Linked DNA regions of Homo sapiens. The protein of the gene in region 1 purifies or fractionates together with the protein of each later gene. This does not show direct contact. Each region holds a gene or a part of one and is shown in the gene's direction. Other genes may lie near its edges.

What was found.
Region 2: the proteins of DPEP1 (region 1) and NCAPG purify together in Homo sapiens (affinity purification with mass spectrometry; 2 studies listed by BioGRID and IntAct, with this or other methods). This does not show direct contact.
Region 3: the proteins of DPEP1 (region 1) and ASIC1 purify together in Homo sapiens (affinity purification with mass spectrometry; 2 studies listed by BioGRID and IntAct, with this or other methods). This does not show direct contact.
Region 4: the proteins of DPEP1 (region 1) and STEAP2 purify together in Homo sapiens (affinity purification with mass spectrometry; 2 studies listed by BioGRID and IntAct, with this or other methods). This does not show direct contact.
Region 5: the proteins of DPEP1 (region 1) and ELOVL5 purify together in Homo sapiens (affinity purification with mass spectrometry; 2 studies listed by BioGRID and IntAct, with this or other methods). This does not show direct contact.
Region 6: the proteins of DPEP1 (region 1) and PIGA purify together in Homo sapiens (affinity purification with mass spectrometry; 2 studies listed by BioGRID and IntAct, with this or other methods). This does not show direct contact.
Region 7: the proteins of DPEP1 (region 1) and STEAP3 purify together in Homo sapiens (affinity purification with mass spectrometry; 2 studies listed by BioGRID and IntAct, with this or other methods). This does not show direct contact.

The regions. Positions count from the first base shown.
Region 1 is NC_000016.10:89,612,196-89,616,441, forward strand, and holds the start of DPEP1 (dipeptidase 1 isoform a precursor), read left to right. Parts: upstream 1-1,446; 5' UTR 1,447-1,524; intron 1,525-4,246. UniProt on the Homo sapiens protein: Hydrolyzes a wide range of dipeptides including the conversion of leukotriene D4 to leukotriene E4. Hydrolyzes cystinyl-bis-glycine (cys-bis-gly) formed during glutathione degradation.
Region 2 is NC_000004.12:17,824,479-17,827,978, forward strand, and holds part of NCAPG (condensin complex subunit 3), read left to right. Parts: intron 1-489; coding exon 490-579; intron 580-903; coding exon 904-1,083; coding exon of another isoform or gene 1,084-1,089; intron 1,090-3,500. UniProt on the Homo sapiens protein: Regulatory subunit of the condensin complex, a complex required for conversion of interphase chromatin into mitotic-like condense chromosomes.
Region 3 is NC_000012.12:50,074,596-50,078,095, forward strand, and holds part of ASIC1 (acid-sensing ion channel 1), read left to right. Parts: intron 1-2,372; coding exon of another isoform or gene 2,373-2,465; intron 2,466-2,617; coding exon 2,618-2,768; intron 2,769-3,404; coding exon 3,405-3,500. UniProt on the Homo sapiens protein: Forms voltage-independent, pH-gated trimeric sodium channels that act as postsynaptic excitatory receptors in the nervous system, playing a crucial role in regulating synaptic plasticity, learning, and memory.
Region 4 is NC_000007.14:90,218,240-90,221,739, forward strand, and holds part of STEAP2 (metalloreductase STEAP2), read left to right. Parts: intron 1-3,500. UniProt on the Homo sapiens protein: Integral membrane protein that functions as a NADPH-dependent ferric-chelate reductase, using NADPH from one side of the membrane to reduce a Fe(3+) chelate that is bound on the other side of the membrane.
Region 5 is NC_000006.12:53,275,951-53,279,450, reverse strand, and holds part of ELOVL5 (very long chain fatty acid elongase 5), read left to right. Parts: intron 1-2,379; exon of another isoform or gene 2,380-2,458; intron 2,459-3,194; coding exon 3,195-3,272; intron 3,273-3,500. UniProt on the Homo sapiens protein: Catalyzes the first and rate-limiting reaction of the four reactions that constitute the long-chain fatty acids elongation cycle.
Region 6 is NC_000023.11:15,322,240-15,325,523, reverse strand, and holds part of PIGA (phosphatidylinositol N-acetylglucosaminyltransferase subunit A), read left to right. Parts: intron 1-371; coding exon 372-504; intron 505-652; coding exon 653-859; intron 860-3,284. UniProt on the Homo sapiens protein: Catalytic subunit of the glycosylphosphatidylinositol-N-acetylglucosaminyltransferase (GPI-GnT) complex that catalyzes the transfer of N-acetylglucosamine from UDP-N-acetylglucosamine to phosphatidylinositol and participates in the first step of GPI biosynthesis.
Region 7 is NC_000002.12:119,244,334-119,247,833, forward strand, and holds part of STEAP3 (metalloreductase STEAP3), read left to right. Parts: intron 1-88; exon of another isoform or gene 89-1,155; coding exon 1,156-1,655; exon of another isoform or gene 1,656-2,548; intron 2,549-3,345; coding exon 3,346-3,500.

The DNA.
Region 1 (4,246 bases):
CTGTCTCAAAAAAAAAAAAAAAAAAGTCATTGCCCCAAATAGAAACCCATTCCCATTAGCACCCACTCCCCACTTTCCTTCACAGCCTCAACAACCATGAATCCACCTTCTGTGTCTATGGAGTCACTTATTCTGGACATTTCATATAAGTGGAATCACACGACATGTGGTCTTTTGAGTCTAGCTTCTTTCTTTCTTTTCTGAGACAGGCTCCCACTCTGCGGCCCAGGCTGAAGTGCAATGGCGTGATCGCAGCTCACTGTAACCTCAGTCTCCCAGGCTCAGGCGCTCCTCCTGCCTCAGCCTCACAGCAGAGACCACAGGTGCGCACCACCACACCCGACTATCTGGCTTCTGCCACTTAGCGAAATGTTTCTGAGGTTCTTCATGTTATAGCACGTGTCAGCACGTCACTCTTCTTCATGGCTGAGTAATACTCCACTGCGTGAAGAGACACATTTATCTGTCCCCGTGTTGGGCATCTGCACTCTTCCCACATTTTGGCTATACTAAATTGTCCTGCTACGAACACCTGTGTAGTTTCTGTGTAAAGGTACAGTACCTATATGTTGGGGTGATCAGACCCAACCCCAGGTCGTGGGGGTGACAAAGTCCGGCGGAGTCAAAGGATTCAGAAAAACACAGAGAGAGAAAGGTGGCACACCAGGGGGCCATCGCTATTGTGGAGGCTGCAAAAGCCCGAGCTCTGGGAGCCCACGGTATTTATTGGTAATGCAACAAAGAAACAGATGGTGAGAATATGGAGGTCAAAAGACCACGTTGCATTAAGCACATGATTACAGCTGTGCCGGTTTAGCATTTATATGGAGCATGTTCTGCTACTTGAGATAATGGGAATAGGGGCCTAGGAGGGCTAGAAGGAAGGAGCCAGCAAGTCTAGACACATTCCAAAGGACATCATGCAAGCCCTGCCTCAGTTTCCCTCCCAACACCTATATGTCTTGTTGGTATACATGTTGTATTTTCACAACGAAAATGCATGAGAAAAAGGACACAGATGGCTTATGTGTACTGATGTGTAGCATTCTCTAAGATCTGACATCACAGAGCTGGACAGCACAGCTGTGCACGCACCCCCCTGGCTGGGAGGTGGCACATCCACACATGAGGGAAAAACACTGCCAGGACATCTCAGGGCACTCTCAGGAAATGAGGAAGCTGCTGGAGAAGTTTCTAGCCTTGGGGGAGGTCAGGACGCAGAGCCATCTCCTGGAGCAAAGTTCCCTCCTCCTCTCTCCCTCCTCCTCTCTCCCTCCTGCAGCCCTTCCTTCCGACCCCTGGCCCTTTCTCTCCAACCTTCCCCTCCCCTCCTCCATTTCCCTCCTCTTTCTACTTTCAGAGAACACAGGGTTCCTGCAGGAAATGGGGCAGTTTCACCTTCCTGAGGAGGGGCCTGGGAGGGGCAGCAGGTGGCCGGGTAGGGCCAGCCCAGCTGTGAGCCTGGCGTGGGAGCTGCCTAGGCCGGGCCCTGCCAGGGAGCAAGTCTGCATCGCAGAGGCCAGGGTGAGTGGGCTGGGGAGTCGGTGCGCCAGGGTACTGGGGTGCCCACCTGGGGTGGTGCAGGCCCGGGGACCCCAGGGCACCACTGTGGGTGGAAGCTGGGACCAGGCGTGCGGGGCAGGGGACGCGGCGGCTTCCTGGGATTCTAGGAGGCTGAGGCCAGGTGTGTGCGGCAGGGGACGGGGCGGCTTCCTGGGATTCTAGGAGGCTGGGACCAGGTGTGTGGGGCAGGGGACGAGGCAGCTTCCTGGGATTCTAGGAGGCTGGCACCAGGTGTGTGGGGCAGGGGACGCGGCTGCTTCCTGGGATTCTAGGAAACTGGGGCCAGGTGTGTGGGGCAGGGGACGCGGCTGCTTCCTGGGATTCTAGGAAACTGGGGCCAGGTGTGTGGGGCAGGGGACGCGGCGGCTTCCTGGGACTCAAGGAGGTGGGAGAGCTGCTCTCAGACCCGCCGCTGTCCTCCCACTGGCCCTCCCCGTGGTCCCTAGGATGAGGTCTGGACCCGCCAGGCCCTCCAGAGGCCCCACAACCCCGCTTGTCCACTGTGCCGGCTGTTCCTTCCTTGTGGCGCCCAGTGCGGTCCTAGGCACCCTTGGGACTCAGCTCACGTACCCCTTCCTCCAGGAAGAGTTCTCAGAGGCTGTGTGAGGAGCGCCGAGTCCCCGGACTTACTCTCTGTTCTGGAATTCTCTGCGCAGTCATCTGCCTTCCCGCCCAGCTAAGAGCAGGGCCTGTTGTCCGGCCCCACAATTTCCTTCCAGGTGGAAAGGATTTGCTGAATGAAAATCAAAGCTGTGGCCGGGCGCGGTGGCTCACGCCTGTAATCCCCACACTGTGGGAGGCCGAGGTGGGCAGATCATGAGGTCAGGAGATCGAGACCATCCTGGCTAACACGGTGAAACCCCGTCTCTAATAAAAAATACAAAAAATTAGCCGGGCGTGGTGGCGGGCGCCTGTAGTCCCAGCTACTCGGGAGGCTGAAGCAGGAGAATGGCGTGAACCCGGGAGGCGGAGGTTGCGGTGAGCTGAGATCGTGCCACTGCACTCCAGCCTGAGTGACAGAGCGAGACTCCGTATCCAAAAAAATAAAAGAAAAATCTTCTCCCCGGGTAGGGTGCGGGGAGCTTCAGGGTTATCACAGGACATGCTAGAGAGAAAGCCTTGGGCACAGGCGGAAGTTGGAGTCTGGAGCTGCGGCTGGGCTAGCGAAGGGCAGAACCTACTTCGGCCAATGGCTCTTACACAGCCAAGCTATTTTCATGGTGAGGGTCTAGTAGCCTCCACATCTCTTGGCGAATTCTTGCTGATTGGCGTCTGACCCCATGGAGAAGCTCAGTGGGTGTCATGGGTGGAAGGGGGCATCTAGGGCCTCCAAACGTGGAAGTGTCTCTAAAATACCTCCCGCTGGGCCTCAGTCTCCTTGTCGACAAAAGGTCAGCTTTGACAAATCTCCAGTCGGAGGCCAGGAGCAGACGGGGAGGGTCCCTCAGTCCCTGCTTGCAGCTTCAGGGGGACGTAGGCTGCGGTGGACGGACACTGAGCCCCAAAGCGGCCTCTCAGAGCCGCCCCTGAGGGGTGGCCTCACAGGTCGGGCTGAGGCTCCCAGCTCCCACTGGGTACAGAGCGGGCAGGCGGGCCTGGCAGGGCAGTGGTGCTGGTCTACACGCAGCTCTGGAGTCTCTGGACCTGTGTCCTGTGCGTACATCCTGGCTCCATCTCCCATGAGCCAGGGGGCTGGACCTGTCTTCTCTACCTCAGTTTCCAAGAGTAGGAGACAGGGGTAACAGCAGCCTTGCTCTCAGGGGTGAGGGCGTGGGTTAAAGGGCAGGACACCCATGGAAGCAGTGGTGGCTCCGAGCACCTGCTCAGCCTTCCCAGGTCTTCAGAGCCCACAGGCAGAGCCCACCCTGAGGGAGGAGCAGCTGGTTCTTGGGTGAAGTGAGCCCCCAGGACCCCGCCTTGCAGGACCCCGCGAGGCCCCGGTGAACTGGAGCCGGGAACCGGCCCCACGGAGGCACGTTGGGATTTGGCCACCAGAGGGCAGGAGCTGCAGCAGCCAGGCAGGCGGTCAACACGGGGGCCCCGGGGTCCTGGCCGGCTGGTGGGGTGTGAATTGGAGAGGAGTGGGCTGTGTGGAGGGAGACCAAGCACCAAGGCCCGCCCTGGCCTCTGAGTGTCCACCCCTTTCACAGGCCCATTTCACAGATACTGAGGCCCAAAGGCGCAGGGCTCAGGCGTCCCCTACGTGTCGTGTCCCCAGGCAGGAGAATTACTTGAACCTGGGAGGCAGAGGTTTCAGTGAGCTGAGATCACACCACTGCACTCCAGCCTGGGTGACAGAGCAAGACTTCATCTCAAAAAAAAAACACAAAAAGTGAATTTAAAATGCTCCCTGAACTCCAGCTGGGGTGCGCAGCAGGAGGCTGGGTCCGTGGGGCTTCGGGGGCTGGGCTGGGGGTTCAGGTGGGTGGGGGAGTCAGTGCTGTGGGGATAGGGCTCAGAGCCCAGAAACAGACAAGCCCACACAGGTAGCCAGTGTCGACGAAACAGGAGAGGCTGGGACCTGTGCCCTGGAAGGACACAGCCAGCGGGTCCTGGGTCACCCACTCCGGGGCTGACCGGGCACAGTTTCACAGAGCAGTATGGCCCAGCCAGCTGTGAGAGGATCGGACAGACGGGCGGAAAGGAGGGGAGACAGCGGGTGTGCTCGGGGCTGTGCCGGGAG
Region 2 (3,500 bases), on another chromosome or scaffold:
CTTTTCCTGATCAGCCAATTCCAATATACAAGTGGTTCTGAAAGGAAAGTCCTTCCTTATGCTATTATTATTTATGCATTGTCTACCCAAAGGAAGAATAAAAGGATATTCCATTTTTCTGTGTTTAACTCCTACAGAGCTGAACAAGAGAAGGGTTGAGGATTTTAGGCAGAGAATTTAAGTGTCTCATCTTAAGCACCATAATTCATATTTCTGTTTTTCAAACATTATATGAGGGATAATTTACTTTCACTGTCTGTGTGCCTATTTCCCTTCCATTCAAATAATTTCATTTTGTAGTCAGATATATTGTTTTGTTTTGTTTTTTTCTAAAATTGTCTAGCAAACAGAATGTGTGCTATTTCTACCAGTATGTTTTTGCTCCATTATTCAATATATGGTGGATACTACTTGGAGTTTTATATAGAATTTTGATACTATTTGCTGATATATCAAACATATATTAAAGCATGTACTCTGAACTTACAGGTTACAGAAATTATCTCAGAGATTCGGGCGCCCATTGTTACTGTTGGTGTTAATAACGATCCAGCTGATGTAAGAAAGAAAGAACTCAAGGTAAGTCTCTTTTAAATGAAAGAAGTGCTTGAGTGTAATGTAGCTGGGCAAGTCTATTCTTTCCTCTTGCTGTGCAGTTCTGAAATGTTTCTCACATAATCAAATTATTGTTTAATTGTTAAACTATAAGAATATTTAAAATGTTACCACATATGTCAGTCTCAGAGATATGCAGATCTCTGTGTCAGGAAAACTACAAGTTTGCATATGCCTGACTCATTAAATTCTGGGCAGTTGAGATATTAAATAATACTCCTGAGTTGCTACAGATATTCATATTAACAGTTTTTGTTCAGTGTTGAAACAATTTATATCTTCCCTTAGATGGCTGAAATAAAAGTTAAGCTTATCGAAGCCAAAGAAGCTTTGGAAAATTGCATTACCTTACAGGATTTTAATCGGGCATCAGAATTAAAAGAAGAAATAAAAGCATTAGAAGATGCCAGAATAAACCTTTTGAAAGAGACAGAGCAACTTGAAATTAAAGAAGTCCACATAGAGAAGGTACAGGTAACTTTTTTCATACTAAATCTCAGGTGTTATTAATCATCTCAACTAAATCTTATTTTCTCTAACTTCTAGAATTGCCAAAATATATTTACTTTGAGCACTTTGTAATAGTGACATGAATTAAAATGAAAAAAGTTTTTCCCTGTTTCTATTTTTGGACTTTGAAAGGCCTTAATTAACTTTAATTATTGGAGGTAGGACTTTATTTGCTTCCTTGTCATGCTAATCTCTAGAATCCGAAGTCTTTCTTACCAGGGAAGCTAGCTTTCCAGTGGTTCACATCTGAGTTTTCTGTTTTTTGTCTTGAATGGTTTAAAAAAGGAAAATACATCCATTTTCCTCTTATTTGTGGAGGATCAATGACCTTTCTTTTTTATTGCTAGCAAAATAATTTCTATGGTAACGTGCATTTTTTTAAAGCTAAATTACTTTTGTGTTTTTAGAAAAAGCTACGCAGCTTTGTTATTTTTAATGAAATACTGAAATATGTCTAGTAACATTTAAAGCTTGCTTTTCAGTAGTTCGTTTTTTAAAAAATTAGTTTGTTAAAGTACTCTCTTAAATGGAGTATGTCTTTCCTTCTGAAAGAAATTTTTTGTTAATGGTATCGATACCATTCTGTCTTACAACAAATGATAAATATGTAAACATAAGATAGGTATCAATTAATATTTGATATTAACTTTAATTTCTTTTGGGATCTTGCCTTTTGTAATGAACATCATTTATTGTTGTACTTTTGGGATGTGCTGATTATTCTCATAAAAAGAATGCTAAATAGGAGACTCTTTTATATAGGAGAGTTTCATGAGTTATGTTTCTGATCTCTTTAGCCATAGACATCCCAACTCCAACACCCACCTTCCCAGAGTGTATGCCTGAATTTTATTTTGATAGCTGGTGGCTTCTTTTATTTGACGAAGTCTGTGGGCCATTATAGGCTATTAAATTTGGAAAGCAAATTTAAAGCAAAAACTGAAAATATCATCTGAAAAATGACAAACTTTAGGTCAAAATTATAAAATTAGCAAAAGTAGTCTATCATGGTTAATATCGTCTGTTTAACTTGACTTGCTTTGACCATTTATGTGTCTATTTGTCCTGTTCGAGGGCTACAAATCTGTTAAAATGCAACTACAACAGAGCATAATAAATGCTATGGTCAGGGAAGTATAGAGGTTTTATGGAGAGGTTTCTAGTGCTGGTAGAGTATTGTTGGCTTCCCCAGAGGAAGACATGTTTTATCCTGAGATTAGAATAAAAATAACAATATAATCTAACAGTCAGAGGATACTTTTTCTGTGGTAGTCACAGCATTAATTACTTCACAAATGTGAATTCATTCTTTTCTTCCTATAGGCCTATGAGGTTGGTACTATTATTATCTTCATTTTACAAAGGGCAAGTAACTTGCCCAAAATCACACAGATAGTAAATGGTGGAGGCAGGATTTAAACCCAAGAAGTGGCTCTAGACTTGTGCTTTTAACTCACTCTGTGCTGTCTCTCCTCAATGAATTATGGAAGGAATGTTGTAGACAGATGGAGCAACATCTGTGATGGTCCAGAAGTTAAAGAATGCCTATTATGTTTTAAAACTTCAGGTCCATGTGACTAGAGAATTGATGGGGAGAAGCAGGAGAAAAATCTGGGGAAAAATTAAGGGCTAGGTCATGTAAGGCTTTGCGTAAGCAATATTAAAAATTTTGTATTCTAAGGATTGTGGTGAACCACTAGTATTTTAAGTGGTTAGGTAAGTCTTATGTCTCAGATCACTGTTGTTTAGGAAATGGATTGGAGAGTAGTAAAAGCTTAGACAGGCATAATAGTTGGGAGACTTACAGTAGGGTTGGGAGACTTACAGATGATGGTAGTCTGAACAAGATAATGACAGTGGATTTGGAAAGTAGTGATGAACTTGAGAGGTATTTAGAAATTAGTAACGGAGAAAAGGGAGTCAGGAATGTATCTTAAGTCTTTTGGTTTAGACAACTGGGTAGATGGTGATGACAGTATGAAGATAGAGAACAAGGAAGAGGAGAGATTTGTGTAATGATGAGTTCCCTTTTGGACATGTTGAGTTTGAGGAAACTGTGGAACATCAAGAGGAAATGTCTTTTAGCAGTTATATATATGAATCTGAAACTTAGAAAATAGCTGGGCTAGCTCATAGATGATAAACGAGGTTGTCAGGTTTTTTTTTTTTTGAGGTGATAATTAGGCAAGATGAAGATTAGACTTTTTTTTTTTTTTTTTTGAGACAACGTCTCCCTCTGTTGCCCAGGCTGGAGTGCAGTGGCATGATCTCAGCTCACTGCAACCTCCACCTCCCGTGTTCAAGCCATTCTCGTGCCTCGGCCTCCCAAGTAGCTGGGACCACAGGTGTGCACCACCACACTAATTTTTGTGTTT
Region 3 (3,500 bases), on another chromosome or scaffold:
CAACCTTTGATCTGTTGGTGGACGCCAGTGCCTGGCCAGTTGTTCACTATTTTGACTAGCACCCATGGACTGAAGCTGGGGTGGGTGCTGCCTGGTCTCTGGTGGTACAAGAGAAGGGAGTGAAAGGGTGACAGTAGAGGGGTGGGGATATCCCCCAACCCCACCCCACCATGGCCCTTGTCAGCATCTCCTGCAGCAGGGACTTCATTGCATCTTCACTTGGTCTTCCTGTGCCCTCCTATGGACGCCCCACCCCCACCAGCTCTGTGTGTGTGTGTGTGTGTGTGTGTGTGTGTGTGTGTGTGTGTGTGTCTGAGGGTAAATAACAGGTCTCTAAATCATATCCCTCTCCCCAGCTTTAAGTGGCCAGGGACCCTCTTCCTAGGGGAAGCTCTCACTGGGAACTGTCCTTCTGCTTGGCCCCCCACCCAGGGGTCCAGGGCTTTCCCTGCTGGGGGGCCACCTGGTACCCCACTGTCTCTCCTAAGTTCATCTTCCAGGTCTGTCTGGCCTGACTGCTCTCCTGCCCCACCAGCTCCCAGATGCCAGGCCTTCCCTGCCCCACACACCCATCCCTCAGTCCTCCACCCCCTCCCTAGCGTAGGGGCAGGGGGTGTCATCATACCCGTGCATCATGGGATGACTGCAGGCATACAGGGGCCTGGGGGTTTGGGCCACTGGGCCTCAGGCCAGGAGCCATAGGAATGTGTCTACCTCTGGGCCCGAGAGTAGAGCAGACAGTTCTCACCCAGGCCCACCAGGTGGCAGCAGCAATCCACTGTACAGCAGCCCTGTCCTCTGAACCGGCGCAAGACAGGGCTGCTAGCCGGCCTCAGACACCTCTAATCCCATACAACTCCGGATGGAGTGTAGGCATGGGCATATGTCCAGCCTGGAGCCTGTGGCTGGGTGCCGCAAGACCTGGTCATGGGGCTGGGGACTAGGAGCCCTTGGAGTTCTCTCTTTGCCTCATCTCTGGACCTCACCCACAAAGTGGGGAGAGCAGTATGTCTCCTCTTCTGGAGGTCAATGGAGGAGGCTGTTCTAGGAAGGGGGAAGGGGGCAAAGACCGTATTCCCTAGTAACCTACTGCCATTGCTGCTCCAGTCTGGCCTGAAACTCTTTTGTCTCTCCCCTGCTCTGGGCTGTATTGACTCACCTTATGACCTGTTTTGTGGACTTTGTCACCATCCAGCAGTAGTAAAAGCACAGCCACCCCAACTTGGGGACATTCAAGGAGGCTGTGGGGAAAAGGCCAAGGATAACTGGTTTACTTTTCTCTTTGCAGCTTTTTAATCAGCACTGTGACCAGGGCTGCACTGGGGCATGGAGTGGGGAGAAGACTGGGGAGACAGCCCCTGGGGCTGAGATATCTTCTGAGGCCCTCCTAGTTTTGCAAAAGCATTAACGCACACACCATGCCCTGGGGGCTCAGTCCCAAGTGCTGGAAGAAGAGGTGCTGGTGCTTGGTTGAGTGTGGTCCTTGGCATGGCAACTGGGTCTACTTTCAGGTTCTGCTGATAATGGGATAATGGAATAATGATGGACCCAAGGGGCTAGGGGCTGAATGAAACCAAAAAACTGAGTTTGGCTGGGCACGGTGGCTCATGCCTGTAATCCCAACACTTTGGGAGGCTGAGGCAGGTGGATCACCTGAGGTCAGGAGTTTGAGACCAGCCTGGCCAACAGGGTGAAACCCCATCTCTACTAAAAATACAAAAATTAGCCGGGTGTGATGTTGTGCACTTGTAATCCCAGCTACTTGGGAGGCTGAGGCAGGAGAATCACTTGAGCCCAGGAGGCGGAAGTTGCAGTGAGCTGAGATCGCACCACTGCACTCCAGCCTGGGCAACAGAGCAAGACTCCATCCCAAAAAAAAAAAACTGAGTTTGGGTCTTGGGGAAAGCAGAATTTCAGATTCCCAGAGTGAAATCTAGGAGAAGAGAAGATATGTCTTGGAGGGCCTCAGGAGCTTGGGCCTGAGGAAAGTGTCCCAAGGAGGGGCCGTGTTAGGATCCTGGTGATGAAAATGTATATGTCAGGGTCCTGGCAGGAAAAAGACAGCTACTTGATGATTTAATTGAAGACTTTAACAAAGGGACTGCTGACAGAGCTGGGGGCAGGGTTAAGGAAACCAATAAGGGGGACTGAGGCAGTGAGCAGTACTAGGAAATCGTTATCACTTCTAGGCTGAAGAAGCACAAAAGAAGACAGTGCTCTGTAGGGAGCCCTGGCAGGATCTGTAATCATGGAGGGCCTAAGGCACTACTAGAGCTACAGAGGGGCGAGGGCTGGGGAAGGATTCATACCCCAATCTTTCCTCCTGCCTTCTGAGCCATTACCAATACCTCCCAACTGTCAACCCCAACTAGAAGCCCATGCAGGTGGCAAAGGAGCTCAGGCGATGCACCCTACCAGGAACAGTTTTCCAGGGCACACAGAGGGCAAGAAAGGGTGAGAAACAGGTGGGAGAGGGGAGCAAATGGAGAATGGGCTGCACGGGAGGAACCATTCCCAAAGGGTGTTGAGATTCCAACAGCTGGGGTGGCTAGGAACAGCCCTTGGTGAGTAGAGGGTGCTGGCAGGACTCTTAGGCTCTCCACTCTGCCCTCGCCAGGTCTTCACACGCTATGGAAAGTGCTACACGTTCAACTCGGGCCGAGATGGGCGGCCGCGGCTGAAGACCATGAAGGGTGGGACGGGCAATGGGCTGGAAATCATGCTGGACATCCAGCAGGACGAGTACCTGCCTGTGTGGGGGGAGACTGGTACGTCACCCACTTCAGGGGCCCCTCTGCATGGCTCTAGGCCCCAGCCTCTGCCAGGGGATTCCTGGGCTTCACTGTGAGACCTGGGCAGGGCCCGGGCTTTCCCCTCTCCCTCCAGCATCTCACCATCTCTATCACTGACTCTACCTGACTTCCACACTCACATCTCTCTGGCTCCCACTTCCTGGTTCAGTTACTCTCCAAGGTAACCAGCCATCCTCTTCCATCAACGCCGCCGCCACTCTATAAATAACTCCCTCTCTTCTCGGGCTGCCTGCCTGTCTGGTCTCGGGGGGCCTTGGGGCAGAGAGAGATGGGGGAAAAGGGAAAAAGGGAGTGGGAGAAATGGAGAGCATCTGAAACAGTGACACTCTGGGAGAAAGTATTTGAAACATCAAGATGCAGAGCAGAAGCCAGGTAAGAAAAGAAGTGTGTAGGATACAGGGGTCATCGGAGCAGCTCAGAGCTGGTAAACCCAGAAGGAGGCTAGGGGGTGGGCTAGGACCCTATAGACTTCCCCCACCCCAGCCCCAGTGCACCCTATGCTTATTTCCAGGAGAGGTAGGATGCCCCCAGGTCTGAGGGGTGTTAGGGAGTCAGGAGCCCTCCCAACCCACACACTCCTCATTCCCCTAGACGAGACGTCCTTCGAAGCAGGCATCAAAGTGCAGATCCATAGTCAGGATGAACCTCCTTTCATCGACCAGCTGGGCTTTGGCGTGGCCCCAGGCT
Region 4 (3,500 bases), on another chromosome or scaffold:
TCCTTTGCTGCACGGAAGTCTTTTAGTTTAATATAGTCCCATTTGTCTATTTTTTTGTTGTTGTTGCTGTGCTTTTGAGGTCCTAGCCATAAAATCTTTGCCTAGACCAATGTCTTCAAATATTTCCCCAATGTTTTCTTCTTGAAATGAGGGGTTTTGGGTCTTATGTTTAAGTCTTTAGTTGACCTTGCGTTGATTTTTGTATATGGTGAGGGACAGGGGTCCAGTTTTATTCTTCTGCATACAGATATCCAATTGTCTAAGTACCATATATTTGAAGAGGATATCCTTTCCTCAGTGTATGTTCTTGGTGCCTTTGTTGACAATCAGTTGGCTGTAAATGTGTGGATTTTTTTTGTGGATTATCTAATCTGTTGCATTCATTGATCTGTGCATTTGTTTTTATACCGGTACCATGTTTTTTCGGTTACTATTGCCTTGTAATATATTTTGAAGTCAGGTAGTGTGATGCCTTCAGCTTTGTTCTTTTTGCTTAGGATTGCTGTAGCTATTCAGGATATTTTTTGGTTCTATATGAATTTTAGGATTGTCTTTTCTAATTCTATGAAAAATCACATTGGTATTTTGATAGGGATTGCATTGAATCTGTGTATTGCTTTGGGCAGTATGGTCATTTTAATATTAATTCTTCCAATCCATAAGCATGGAATGTTTTTCCATTCGTTTATGTCATCTTTAATTTTTTTCTACAGTGCTTTGTAGTTTTCCTTGTAGCAAACTTTCACCTCCTTGGTTAAATATATTCCTAGTTGTTTTTTGTTTGTTTTTGTTTTTTTTATAGCTATTGTAAATGGGATTGCCTTCTTGGTGTCTTTTTCAGCAAGTTCATTGTTGGTGTATAGAAATGGTACTGATTTTTGTATGTCGATTTTGTATCCTGCAACTTTATTGAATTTATTTATCAGATCTAAGAGTTTTTGTGTGAAATCTTTAGGTTTATCTAGATCTAAGATCATATCATCAGCAAAGAGGGATAATTTGACCTTCCTCTTTTCCAGTTTGGGTACCTTTTATTCTTTCTCTTTCCTGGTTGCTCTGGCTAGGACTTCCAATATGATGTTGAATAGAAGTGGTGAAAGTGGCATCCTTGTCTTGTTTCTGTTCATAGAGGAAAGGCTTTGAGCTTTTCCCCATTTCAAAATAATGATAGCTATATTATTATTATATAGATCATATAAGCCCTTATTATGTGAAGCATATTTTTTCTATCCCTAGTTTGTTGCAAGTTTTATCATGAGGGGATGCTAAATTTTCTCAAATGTTTTTTCTGCATCTATTGAGATGATCATATGGTTATTGTCCTTCATTCTCTTCAGGTGATGTATCACAGTTGTTGATTTGCATATGTTGAACCATCCTTGTATCCCTGGGATGCATTCCTGGAATAAATCCCCTTTGATCATGATGTGTGTGTGTTTTTTTTATGAGTTGTTAGATTTGGTTTGCTTCTACAGACACACACGCGCGCACACACACAATTTTTAGGAGACAGGGTCTTGCTCTGTTGCCCAGGAGGGAGTGCGGTTATGCAATCATAAATCACTGCAGCCTTCAACTTCTGGGCTCAGGTGATTCTTCTGCCTCAGCTCCCGAGTACTAGGACTTCAGGTGTGTACCACCACACCTAGCTATTGTTTAAATTTTTTGTAGAGACGAGGGTCTCATTATGTTGCCCAGGCTGGGCTTAAACTCCTGGCTTCAATCCATCCTCCTGCATTGGCCTCCCAAAGTGCTGGGATTACAGGCATAAGCCATCATGTCTGGCCCTTGGTTTGCTAGTATTTTGTTGAGAGTTTTTGTATCTGTGCTCATCAGGAATAATAGTATGTAGTTTTCTTTTTTGTTGAGCCTTGTTTGCTTTTGGTGTGAAGATAATGCTGACCTCATAGAATGAGTTAGGCAGAATTCCCTCCTGTTTAATGTTTTGGAAGAGTTTGAAGAGAATTGGTGTTAGGTCTGTTTTGAAAGTTTGGTAGAATTCGGCAGTGAAGCCATCTGGCCCTGGACTTTTCTTTGTTGGGAGTTTTTTAATTACTGCCTCAACTTTTTTTGTTACTGGTCTGTCCAGGTTTTCCATTTCTTCCCATTTCAATCTTGGTAGCTTGTATATGTGTAGCAGTTTATCCATTTCCTCTAGGTTTTCCAGTTTGTTGGTGTATAGTTGTTCATAATAGCTTCTCATGATCTTATGTATTTCTGTGGTATCAATTGTAATGTTTCCTTTTCCATTTCTGATTTTTTATTGGAGTATTTCCTCTTTTTTCTTGGTTAGTCTAGCAAGTGCTTTATCAATTTTATCTTTTCAAAAAACAAAACTTTTTGTTTCATCCATCCTTTGTATTGTTTTTTAAGTCCCAATTTGTCTAGTTCTGCTCTGATCTTTATTATTACTTTCCTTTTACCAATTTGGGGTTTGGCTTGTTTTTGCTTTTCTAGTTCCTTGAGGTACATCATTAAGTTGTTTATTTGAAATCGTAATGATTTTTTGGTGTAGGTGCTTGTTGATATAAGCTTCCATCTTAGCACTGCTTTTGCTGTATCTCATGGGTTTCAGTGTGTTGTGTTTTTATTTTTATTTGTTGAGGGAAATTTTTTGATTTCTTCCTTAATTTATTCTTTGCCCCCGTAGTCATTTAGGAGCATGTTGTTTAATCATTTATTTTTACAGTTTCAAAAGTTCCTCATGTTGTTGACTTCTAGTTTTATTCCATTGTGGTCTGAGGAAGTACTTGATATGACTTCGATTTTTAAAAAATTTGTTGAATCTTATTTTGTGTTCTAACATGGTCATTCCTAGAGAATGTCTATGTGCTGATGAGAATTTGTATTCTGTAACTGTTGTATAAAATGTTCTGTGAATGTTTGTTAGGTCCATTTGGTCTAACGTATAGTTTAAATTCAATGTTTCTTTGTTAATTTTCTGTCTAGATTATCTGTCAGATGCTGGCAGGCGGTGTTGAAGTCCCCAAATGTTGTTGTATTGGCGTCTGTTTCTCCTTTTAGATCTGATAACACTTTATTTATATTAATATATCTGAGTGGTCTGTTGTTGGGTGTATATATGTTTAGAATTGTTATATCCTCTTGCTAGAATTTATCTATTATCATTATATAATGACCTTCATTGTCTCTTTATACTGTTTTTGACTCAAACTGTTTTATTTGATATAAGTATAGTGACTTTTGGTTTCCATTTGCATGGACTATCTTTCTCCATCCCTTTGCTTTCAGTCTTATATGTGTTTTTATATGTTAGATGGGTTTCTTGTACCCAGCATATACTTGGGTTATGATTTTTTATCTATTACTAGTCCATATCTTTTCAGTGGAAAGTTTAATCCATTTGCATTCAAAGTTATTCAACAATGAAAACTTCCCAAGTCTAGTGAGAGATGTAGACACCCGGATACAGGTAACTTAGAGATCTCCAAACAGATACAATACAAGAAGGTCTTCCCCACAGCACATTATAGTCATAT
Region 5 (3,500 bases), on another chromosome or scaffold:
GGGAGCATGTGAGCAAACAGCTACAGGTCACTGCAAGGTGAGGGTAGAGGAAGGAGAATAGACCTCAGGCTCTAGTGCTCAAGGGAGTAATCATGAAGAAAATAGAATTTTAACTGAACTTTGAAGGATAGATAGGATTTTGAGAGCTGGAGATGGGGGTACATAGGTGCAGAGGGCATTCTAGTTGAAAAGAATAAAACAGTGGTCACTGCCAACACTTATGTTTAATCCTATGAACCACATTGGGTGAGACAGGCATTATGTACTTCATGGTGGGAGCCTTATGTTTATCCCATTTGAGGACTGAGAAAACTGAAGTTTAAAATGTTGGAATACCTTAGCTAAGGTCACCTAGCAAAACGTGAAAAAGCTAGGGTTTAATGGGCTAATGCCCAAACCCATGCTCTTTCCCCTTGGCTACTGTGTAGCGGTTAAGGAAGGGCATGTTTGGAGAATGGGAAGAGGTCCAATTTGTGTGCACGTAGGGGAGAAGTGAAAGATAAGCTTGGGACCACGTTGTGGAAGACTAAATACCTGGACACTGCACCTAGGATTCAGGGTTTCATTCTGAAGGCAATGATGACTCACTGGAGGGTTTTAAATATGGAAATATGGAATTCAGTGGTTTGAGGGGCACAGCGGCCCCAGTGGAAGTGTGGTAGGTGTGAGTAGCAGTGGAGGGAGTGTTGCATTGAAGCATGACAGAGCTCCTACAGGGAACCTCAACAGGTGGAAGAGGAATGGTGGGCCTAGGTCAAGTGGAGTGGCACCGAGTGAGCAGCTTCTTGTGTGTATACCTGGTTTATGCTTCAGGAGTGAAAAAAGTTCACCACCCAATACTGAGGTTTGAGTTCTTTAACTAAACTCCAAAGACAACAGGTGTTTTATACATGGATTCCCCTGCCCCATTTATGGGTGGGGAGAGGGCAAATGGAACGTTAGGTTAACTAGTTTAAAGAGTCAAGGCAATCCCACCTGGATCCCTTCTTAAAAAGGAAGCCTGTGTCCAAGAGTCCCTTCTGCTGAGTTAACAAGACCCCTTCAACCCGTTCTCATCTTTGGGATTGAGGCGCCTGCAGAATTACAAGAGAGGATTTGTCCTCCTCTTCTCCAGAGAGCTACCTTGATTTTCCCCACCCCTGCCAAGATAGACATTCATGAATGCAGTCATCCACACCTCCACAAGTGCACACACACCAGCCATCCTATTTTAAAACAGACAAAAGCAAAACCAACCCAGGATGTCTCTGGACACCATAAACCAAAATAGTCGCTGGAAAAAACAGTGATGGTAGGTTCCAGATTTAAGATTCATAAAATGGTAACATTTCCAAAAATATCTCTGATGAAGACAGTCATATGTTAGTACGTTTTTAATTTTGCCAAGAGAGGCTGCTGTTTTAAAAAAGAGGATCTTTTACATTGCACGAATTTATCTTCATGAAAACCTTACTGCGTTGTCCTTATTTTTCTTATTCGCGGTTGTCCCACAAACATTTCATCAAGAAGCACCAGTTTCCTTTCTGTACCCTCAAGCCACAGGAGGTAGTTCCTTGGTTCCCTCCTGGGGTAGAAAGAAGGGCAGCAAAAAGAGCACTGTGCTAAGCTGGCCCTTCCCTCTCCACCCCAGGTCTCAAGAGTGCATGCCAGCTTCCTCCCCCGACCTCCAACGCACTTTGGATTCAGACTTTGTGTCTTGCTTCTTAGGACTTCTGATCAGCCTGCATGGATCCTGCTTGACTGGCCATGACTTTAGAGAGTAGTAGAAGACAGAAAAGTTAATACACCTTCTAATGAATTACCATGTGGGTACTGATCTTTCAAAGATAGTATAGAATAGTTTGTTGTGTGGTCTGTTTTTAAAGTCTGTTAACATGAAGCTACAGAAATTTGGAACAGACCCTTTAGAGATAATTTAGTCCAACCTCATCATTTTATAGTAAAAACAACAAAAGCCCACAGGAATTAGCTGGCTTGCCCCAGGTGCTGGGCCTGGCACTCAAGCCTTCCTCCTAATTCCATGGCTCTTCATCATGAACTGATGCTTCTCCCATGCTAAATCCTTGTGCTCTTCTTTGGCCATGAAAAGCCTGTTAACTCTCAGTGCTTTTTTATGTGTAGAAGGTGACAAAGCAGAAGGAAAATGGCAAGAAGAAAGATAACCAAAGAAAAATCAGATAGAAGGCAGGATACCCAGCGTGAGTGCAGCGGCTACACCCATTTTTTGCCATTTATTTCTGATGTCAGACCAGGTGGAAATATCACAAGGTGTCTTCAGATCCTTGTAATCACCTCTTGTTCCCTGGGGGGGAATCTGTGTTGCTCGCCAAGCTAAACTCTTGTGTTCAAGGACAGGGAACACAAGAATTGGGGTGCAGACTCTACATCACAGCCCTGCAGTTATCACGGGCCCATTGAGGGGAGGGGCCCGTGATAACTGCTGGGCTGTGATGTAGAGCCTGTACCCCAGTTCTGGGGTCCTCTCTGTGACAGCATAGTGCCTACTGTGCTGCAAGTGATTCTGAGGCATGGGCACTTGTGAAGCCTTCAGTTTGTGAAGCCTAATTCATGGATCCGGAGGATTGTACATACAACAACAGGAAATAATGAAGATAAAGTTGGACTAAATTATCCCTGAGCCTACAGCAGTGGTTCTCAAAGTATGGTTTCCACATCAGCAGCATCAGTATCACCTGGACCTTGTTAGACATACAAATTCTAGGCCCCCAGACCTACTGGAACAGAAACACCCCCAGGGACCCATGTTTTACTAACTCACCCCTCAGGTAATTCTGGTGCTGCACACTCAAGTTTGAGGAGCACTGGCTTAGGGAAAGCAGCCAGAGGCTTCTGTGGGGCAGAGCAGGGAGCCTGTGATTGGCTTGGTCTGGGCACTTGTGCTAGGACCAAGGGGGTGACGGGCTGAGGGTTCTGCAGAGAAGCAGCGTGGTAAAGGAAGGTCTCTGAGGGCAGCAGCCTGGGAGTGACTTTTAAGCCCACCCCTTAGGAAATTGAGACTCAAGTCATTAAAGCTTTCCTTTTGTTTACACTTGCCTACAATTGTTTTTTCTCAGAGCAAACTTGGCTCAGCACAGCCCAAGGTAAATTATCACAGATTCTGCAACTAATAAAGTTCAATGAGGACTTTACATGGCTCAGATGCTGTTGGTGACTGGCTCTTTCTTCTTTTTTAGTTAGTAACAGGAGTATGGGAAGGCAAATACAACTTCTTCTGTCAGGGCACACGCACCGCAGGAGAATCAGATATGAAGGTACTGTCTCTTTTTCAGAAACTTTATTATTATAAGTGTTGAGTTTTTAAAAATAAATTGTATAAAATACAAAATGGCCCATAACCTCACTGCCCAGGCAATCCCTGTTGATATTTTTAAAAGAATAAAAAAGGCAATATATACACATCAAATTAAAATTTGAATGTGAAAGGTATAAAATAAAACCTAAAGCATCCCCCTCTGTAAAAATAACTCCGGTTAACAATT
Region 6 (3,284 bases), on another chromosome or scaffold:
ACAACACAAGGCTTGTACGTGTAAAGCATCAATTTTAATAAAAAGGCCATTTTCCTGTTTACAAATGGCACTTTAACATTAAATTATCAAAGTTTATTAATATTATTACATACAGACTAGTTTTGGAGAAGATAAAGTTTGATATGTGTAACAAAAGTTAGAAATAATGTTCGCTGTATGAGTTTTAACCCAACTGCTTTATAAGGCTGTTTCTATTAGATCAGTGTTTGGTGATACTAATCTTGAGGTGGAGAACATTAGCAGCAATAAGAATTTAAGTGTAATATAAATAGCAGACTTGGTTTATAAATTAAATTTCTTTTGTAGCATGAGTTTTCACTCCTTTCTTCCCCTCTCATTTAAAAAATCAGGGTGCGTCTTTTGGGAGCTTTAGAACACAAGGATGTTAGAAATGTCTTAGTTCAAGGACATATTTTTCTGAATACCTCCCTTACTGAAGCATTCTGCATGGCGATCGTGGAAGCAGCCAGTTGTGGTTTACAGGTAAAAAGCTTTGAGGGCATTCATGGTTGGGATTTCTGTGTATTTTGAAAAATAATGAGACACATTCCATAATAATGTTTTAACTGGTTTTGTTGATCTTCCTGAGGTATGATTATGGTGGAGTATGTGTTCTTTCTTTCTTTTTAAGGTTGTAAGTACCAGAGTTGGTGGAATTCCTGAGGTGCTTCCAGAAAACCTTATTATTTTATGTGAGCCTTCAGTAAAATCTTTGTGTGAAGGATTGGAAAAGGCTATTTTCCAACTGAAGTCAGGGACATTGCCAGCTCCAGAAAACATCCATAACATAGTAAAGACTTTCTACACCTGGAGGAATGTTGCAGAAAGAACTGAAAAGGTATGTCACATGCTGAGAAAAGATTGTGTCTGAACTCTTACTTGATGTTTCACGTACACATTTGCTTTTTCTTACATAGATGTTTACCATTTTTGTTCTATTGCTTAAGTTGATGAAATCTCTTCCAGGTGAAAAGAAACAGATTTTGGTACACACACCGGGCTAAGTGTCTGGTCAAATTATTGCGTTTGACATTTGAAAATAGCAGTAATACAGTCTAGCCCCCTCATTAAACTGGGCATAAAGAAGTTACAAAATTTTCTAAAAGTCACAATGAGTAGAGACAAGACGAGTATTAAATCTACTCTTAGATATTTTCTTGAAGCTGTTGATAATTCTAAAGCAAACATCTCTATTAGGAAATGCATGGTTTTGCTGATTGCAGCAACTTTATAACTTGTGAATATTTAATTCAGGCTACTTCCTAAACCTCTTGTAGCCCTTTTGCTAACTACTGTGATTTTCTCCAGGAAAAGGATTTTTGCATCTTTGGGCTGATTGAGAACATAGTAAGTTAGAATTCAAAATGTACGTGACAAACGTGGGAAAAATCACAAATAAAAAGCAGCAACAGAGAATTTCCAAAAGGACAGGTATAGGAAATAGATTAACACCCTTAGGTAGGAGATTACAGTTGTGGGAAATGCTTCCTGAATTTGAATTAGGGACTGCTTTCATTCTCAGTTTCATCCTTTACGTCCTTTTCATGATGTTCTCTGCCTCATGCCTCTTATTACCATGTAACAAGCTGAACAGAAACAACTCAGCTTCTTAGTATGTAGAAATTGTGAACCAGAAAGATAACCAGGTGGAACATGGAGAAGGTAGTAGTTTAGAGTAATGCTACCAACGTGATATTCAGTGGAGCAATGAGTTTTTAGCCTAGAGTAGATAGCAAGTTGGAGCTGAGGAGAATAGCTCTTTACTGTAAGGCTTTCTTACTTGGTTTGAATGATGAATTCCAGTATATAAGATGAACTCATATGTGAATGGAAGTTCTAAAAACTTATCTCTAAAAATTGTCTTATACATTTTCCATTGAAACATGAGATGTTTGCGACAGTCAAACATTTTTGACTGAAGCATTTTGAGACATTCTGACCTTCTACAAGTCTTGTACTATCTCTCCCATATGAAACATGGAAAGTTGGAGTCTAGTGCTTACCTGTTGGGAGTACATGTCAGAGTCCCCGGGCAGCCTTTTCAGACTCTCTCTACTCCATCTTGATGTCCCCCTGCCTCCCCAACCACTCCCTAGATTCCAGTGTTATCCTTTAGGAGCAGAGATAGAATTGGGGGTATAATTGGCAGGGATATTTGGTCAGACAGGTTATTTTGATGATACCATCCTGATCTCCACTCCCTTTGAGAACCATGGCACTGTTAAGTTGTGACTTGACCTTCTTCATTGACATCGTATAAACCCCAGAAGCCTGAGCCACTGTAGGTAATAAGTTAACAGGGAAAGAACTGTGGTGACGGTTTGTCAGCATATAGTAAAGGGGCTAATTGGGATTTTTTTGGTAACCACATTTTTCTTTTGGTTAAAGTAATAGTACAGCATCTGTATTTTTTTTAATTCTATGGTGATTTATAATACACTTTTAGAAAAAAGTAAATCCTTGCCTATAATGGATTGTCATCGCTAACATTCTCTTCATAATAGTAAATTGTTATTTTATCACTTAAAACTATAAGTAGATTAATTGACCTGAAATAAAGCTGGACAAAAAAGTCAGTTTGTAGTTACTCTTTTAACCCTATGACATTTTAATTCATTTCAACTCCTCCTTCTTAGTTTAACTGTGCTATTTAGGAAATCGATCATGAAATTAATTTGGAGTTCATGCTGTAAACATACTTCTTCAATTGCAATTCACCAGTCTCAGCATAATTCTCAACATAATTCTGATTAAAATGTTTGTATTCAGAATGTCCTCAGGGTAAAAGAGCTCGATGAAAACATGCCGTACCTTTCAAGGGCTGTTGACCTGTACAACATGCACTGCATGTTATAACTTCCTTGAGTTCAAAAGGAGACGGTTTAAAGGTCTAATATATGAGACTAAGCACAAGTAATACTCAAATTACAAAATATGAATGTTGGCCCATTTGATGTGTTCTGAACAAGTATGTTTAAAGATCTTCGTTTTTTGATATTTTAGAGCTTAGTACTTAGCAGTGTTTTAAAAAGCAAGCCACCTACTTGCTCAGCAAAAAACGTTATTTCATTTGCCAGCATTTGACCTATACTATCTACTGAAATTTCCCCCATCTCTTTATCTTCTTTTATTTGAAATCCATGAAATGCTTCTGCATGTCCTCACCATCCATGCTCAGCAACATGTACAGCCTCATGTGGCTGTTGAAAGAGGAGGCTCTGTGTTCCCAGAAGTATGCTAGATTGTAGCTCTCTGCTTGTGGT
Region 7 (3,500 bases), on another chromosome or scaffold:
TCAAGCGATCCTCCTGCCTCAATGTCCTGAGTAGCTGGGACGACAGGCGTGTGCCACTGTGCCTGGCTAATTTTTTTTTTATTTTTTTAGAGATGGGACCTCCCTGTGTGGCCCAGGCTGGTCTTGAACTCCTGACCTCAAGCGATTCTCCTGCCTTGACCTCCTGAAGTGCTAAGATTACAGGTGTGAGCCACTGCACCTGGCTAGCATGGTTTTAAATTTGTGCTCAATTTAAATGGTATTAGGATAAATTATTTACAGGTAAATTTATGATATGATCTTGGTCAGTATTAATGAAAAATTATGTTGCCTACCTTCATACTTAAAGGAAATAGCAAATTTTAGTTAGAAGTTGGTGACAATTAATATATAATAATTTTTCCATCCAAGTTTACTGTAGACCGATGGCCCGAGTTCAGGGTTTCCTCCACATCCACTCATATCTTGGGCTCAGCAAAGAAGATCACAGGGCACCCACTCTATCTTAGGGGCCCATTCACTTGTCTCTCAGTCCTGCCCTCAGAGATCAAGGTTTGGTGTTCATTCATTCATTCATTCAGCAAACACTGAGCACTGCCTCCGTGCCAGGCTATGATACACAGTGAGGTCCAAGGTCAGATGAGATGAGGTCCTGCCCTCAAGCTGTTCACCATGCTTCAGGGAGAGCATAAGAAGAACTGCTCCAAGATGCAAAATGTAGACAAGCATAGGGACATGCTCACCCTTCCTGGTCATCAAACACCCAGCGATGGTGAGGTTGGGGTTAGATGGTCACTCCTGGCTAGTGACACTGTCCATTGCCTAATCCTTTTGAAAAGAAGTATGGCACTGCATCACATTGGTCATGGAAATTCCAGAGTTCCCTTTCCCAGCACTCTCACTCTGCCAGTTTTTCCCGAGGAAATCATTCAGCAGGAGGGACAAAGGGTGGAGGGCAGAAGTCATCCCTGCTCTTCCTGAGTCTGTGCTCTCCCCAGGGAAGGGGCTGTGTTGTGTTCAGCTTGTTCCCCTGGTGCTGACACGTGGTAGCACTCGGTGAACACCTGCTGGGTGAATGTCTGACTGCCGTGTAGTTACGATGTATAAGAGGAGGGAGGTGGCAGAAGGGGCAGTCCAGGAGCCCTCCACTGACCAGGTTCCTGACTTCTCTTGCAGCCACCAAAATGCCAGAAGAGATGGACAAGCCACTGATCAGCCTCCACCTGGTGGACAGCGATAGTAGCCTTGCCAAGGTCCCCGATGAGGCCCCCAAAGTGGGCATCCTGGGTAGCGGGGACTTTGCCCGCTCCCTGGCCACACGCCTGGTGGGCTCTGGCTTCAAAGTGGTGGTGGGGAGCCGCAACCCCAAACGCACAGCCAGGCTGTTTCCCTCAGCGGCCCAAGTGACTTTCCAAGAGGAGGCAGTGAGCTCCCCGGAGGTCATCTTTGTGGCTGTGTTCCGGGAGCACTACTCTTCACTGTGCAGTCTCAGTGACCAGCTGGCGGGCAAGATCCTGGTGGATGTGAGCAACCCTACAGAGCAAGAGCACCTTCAGCATCGTGAGTCCAATGCTGAGTACCTGGCCTCCCTCTTCCCCACTTGCACAGTGGTCAAGGCCTTCAATGTCATCTCTGCCTGGACCCTGCAGGCTGGCCCAAGGGATGGTAACAGGCAGGTAGGTTCTGGGGGAATAATACCCATCGTAACAATAAATATAAATGGCTAATTTTCATCGAGTGCTGCCAGCATGCTCTTTTTGATATGTTATCATAACTAATCCTGCATCACTGCAAAATTCCATTTTACAGAACAGGAAATTGTGGCTCAAAGACATTAATGATCTTACTGAAAATTCCATAGCTGGTAAGTTGGGATTTGAACCCAGTTCCTATGGATCTGAAACCCATGTTCTTTCTGCTATGGTAACAGGGTTTCCTAGAGGGCAAGGAGGAAAAGGTTGATGGCTTTTTGCTATTTGGAGCCAAGAAGGAGAGAGACTTGGCTTTTAGAATTGGACTCAGAAGGAGGAAAGTAACACACTTATGTACCCGGCCCTGAGGAAGGCAGGCATGTCTCAAATTTTATCGTATTTATTCTAAGGGCTTCCAAGAACTGATTTCTCAGAAAAGTCAACAGCAGGTTTTTCTGGGGCTAGATAATGGCTCCACGGAACAGCTAGAGCTGCATACGTTTCTTGCCACGAGGAGCTCTTACCAAGACAAGGTGGTTTTTAATGCCACCTTGGTTTTTAATGCATTTTCTTGGCGAAAGAATGCCAGACTCCATGTGTGAGAACTTCCACCAGTGAGTCGAGCCCAGGTGCCAGGCTCTGTAGGACAGTTTAAAGGTGCCCAGCCATACCTGACTACAGCACCTTAAATGCAGGCTGCATCATGGGACTCCCAGGTATGGACCAGGAGGAACAGTGGAGAGTGTTGGATGCAGGGCCTGGAGGGAACGGAGCAAGCAAGCTGGCTGGAAAAGACTTGGAGGAGGGCTTTGACCTGGGCCCACCTCATGCTGTCAGGCTCAGGGAGCAGGGAGTGCATTCCAGTCTGAGGGAACAATCTGAAAAGGCACAGAGATAAGAAACAATGCTCCTAGACCTCAGTTTTCTCACCTGAAAAATGAAGACTATAGTACCTACCTGCGGGCTCATGGCAAGGCTGAGAGATCATATATGTAAAGCTCAGCATAGAGTAGGTGTTCAGTCTGTGTTTGGAGACTAAACTGACCAATGCAGTGTCAACAAGGCCCACGGGGTGCTTGGGGATCTGAGGACTGCAATGTGCCTGCAGGGGGACCTCGTGGGTCAGAGCAGCGGGCTTCAAGGCGGAGAGGGCAGGCTGGAGCTGGCTTGTAGAAGGCCTTATGTGCTGGCTGAGGGCTCTACTGAGCCGAGGGACATCATCAAGGGGGGTGATTCTGAACTGAGGGATGGAGCTGCAGCCACAGCTGCCCATTCTGCACCATACGCAAAACTCTTTTGCTGAGCGGCTCCCAGGGCAGGCCACGGCCTTGGAGACAGCCATGTCGGGGGCCCATGGGGACTACCTGGATGAGCATTTTGCTTGTGGTTGCTGATGTCCACGAGCTGGGCAAGATGCTTACTGTTTGCAGCTTCCCTCCTTGAGTAGTTGGCCTGGCTTGGCAGGTGGGCCAGAGGCTGGGAGGCCTGGGCAGCAGAGAAAAGACCCCTAGCCTGGGAGCTAGAACCCCATTGGCTCCCACCTGTACCATTGACTGGCAGCTCACTTGAACAAGTCCCTGCCCCTCTGGCCCTCGGTTTCCTCAGCTGCTCAGTGAGGCCCTGCCCACTCCTGTGGCCTGTGACGCCGTCTGACTGCCCCACTTTTCTCCCGCAGGTGCCCATCTGCGGTGACCAGCCAGAAGCCAAGCGTGCTGTCTCGGAGATGGCGCTCGCCATGGGCTTCATGCCCGTGGACATGGGATCCCTGGCGTCAGCCTGGGAGGTGGAGGCCATGCCCCTGCGCCTCCTCCCGGCCTGGAAGGTGCCCAC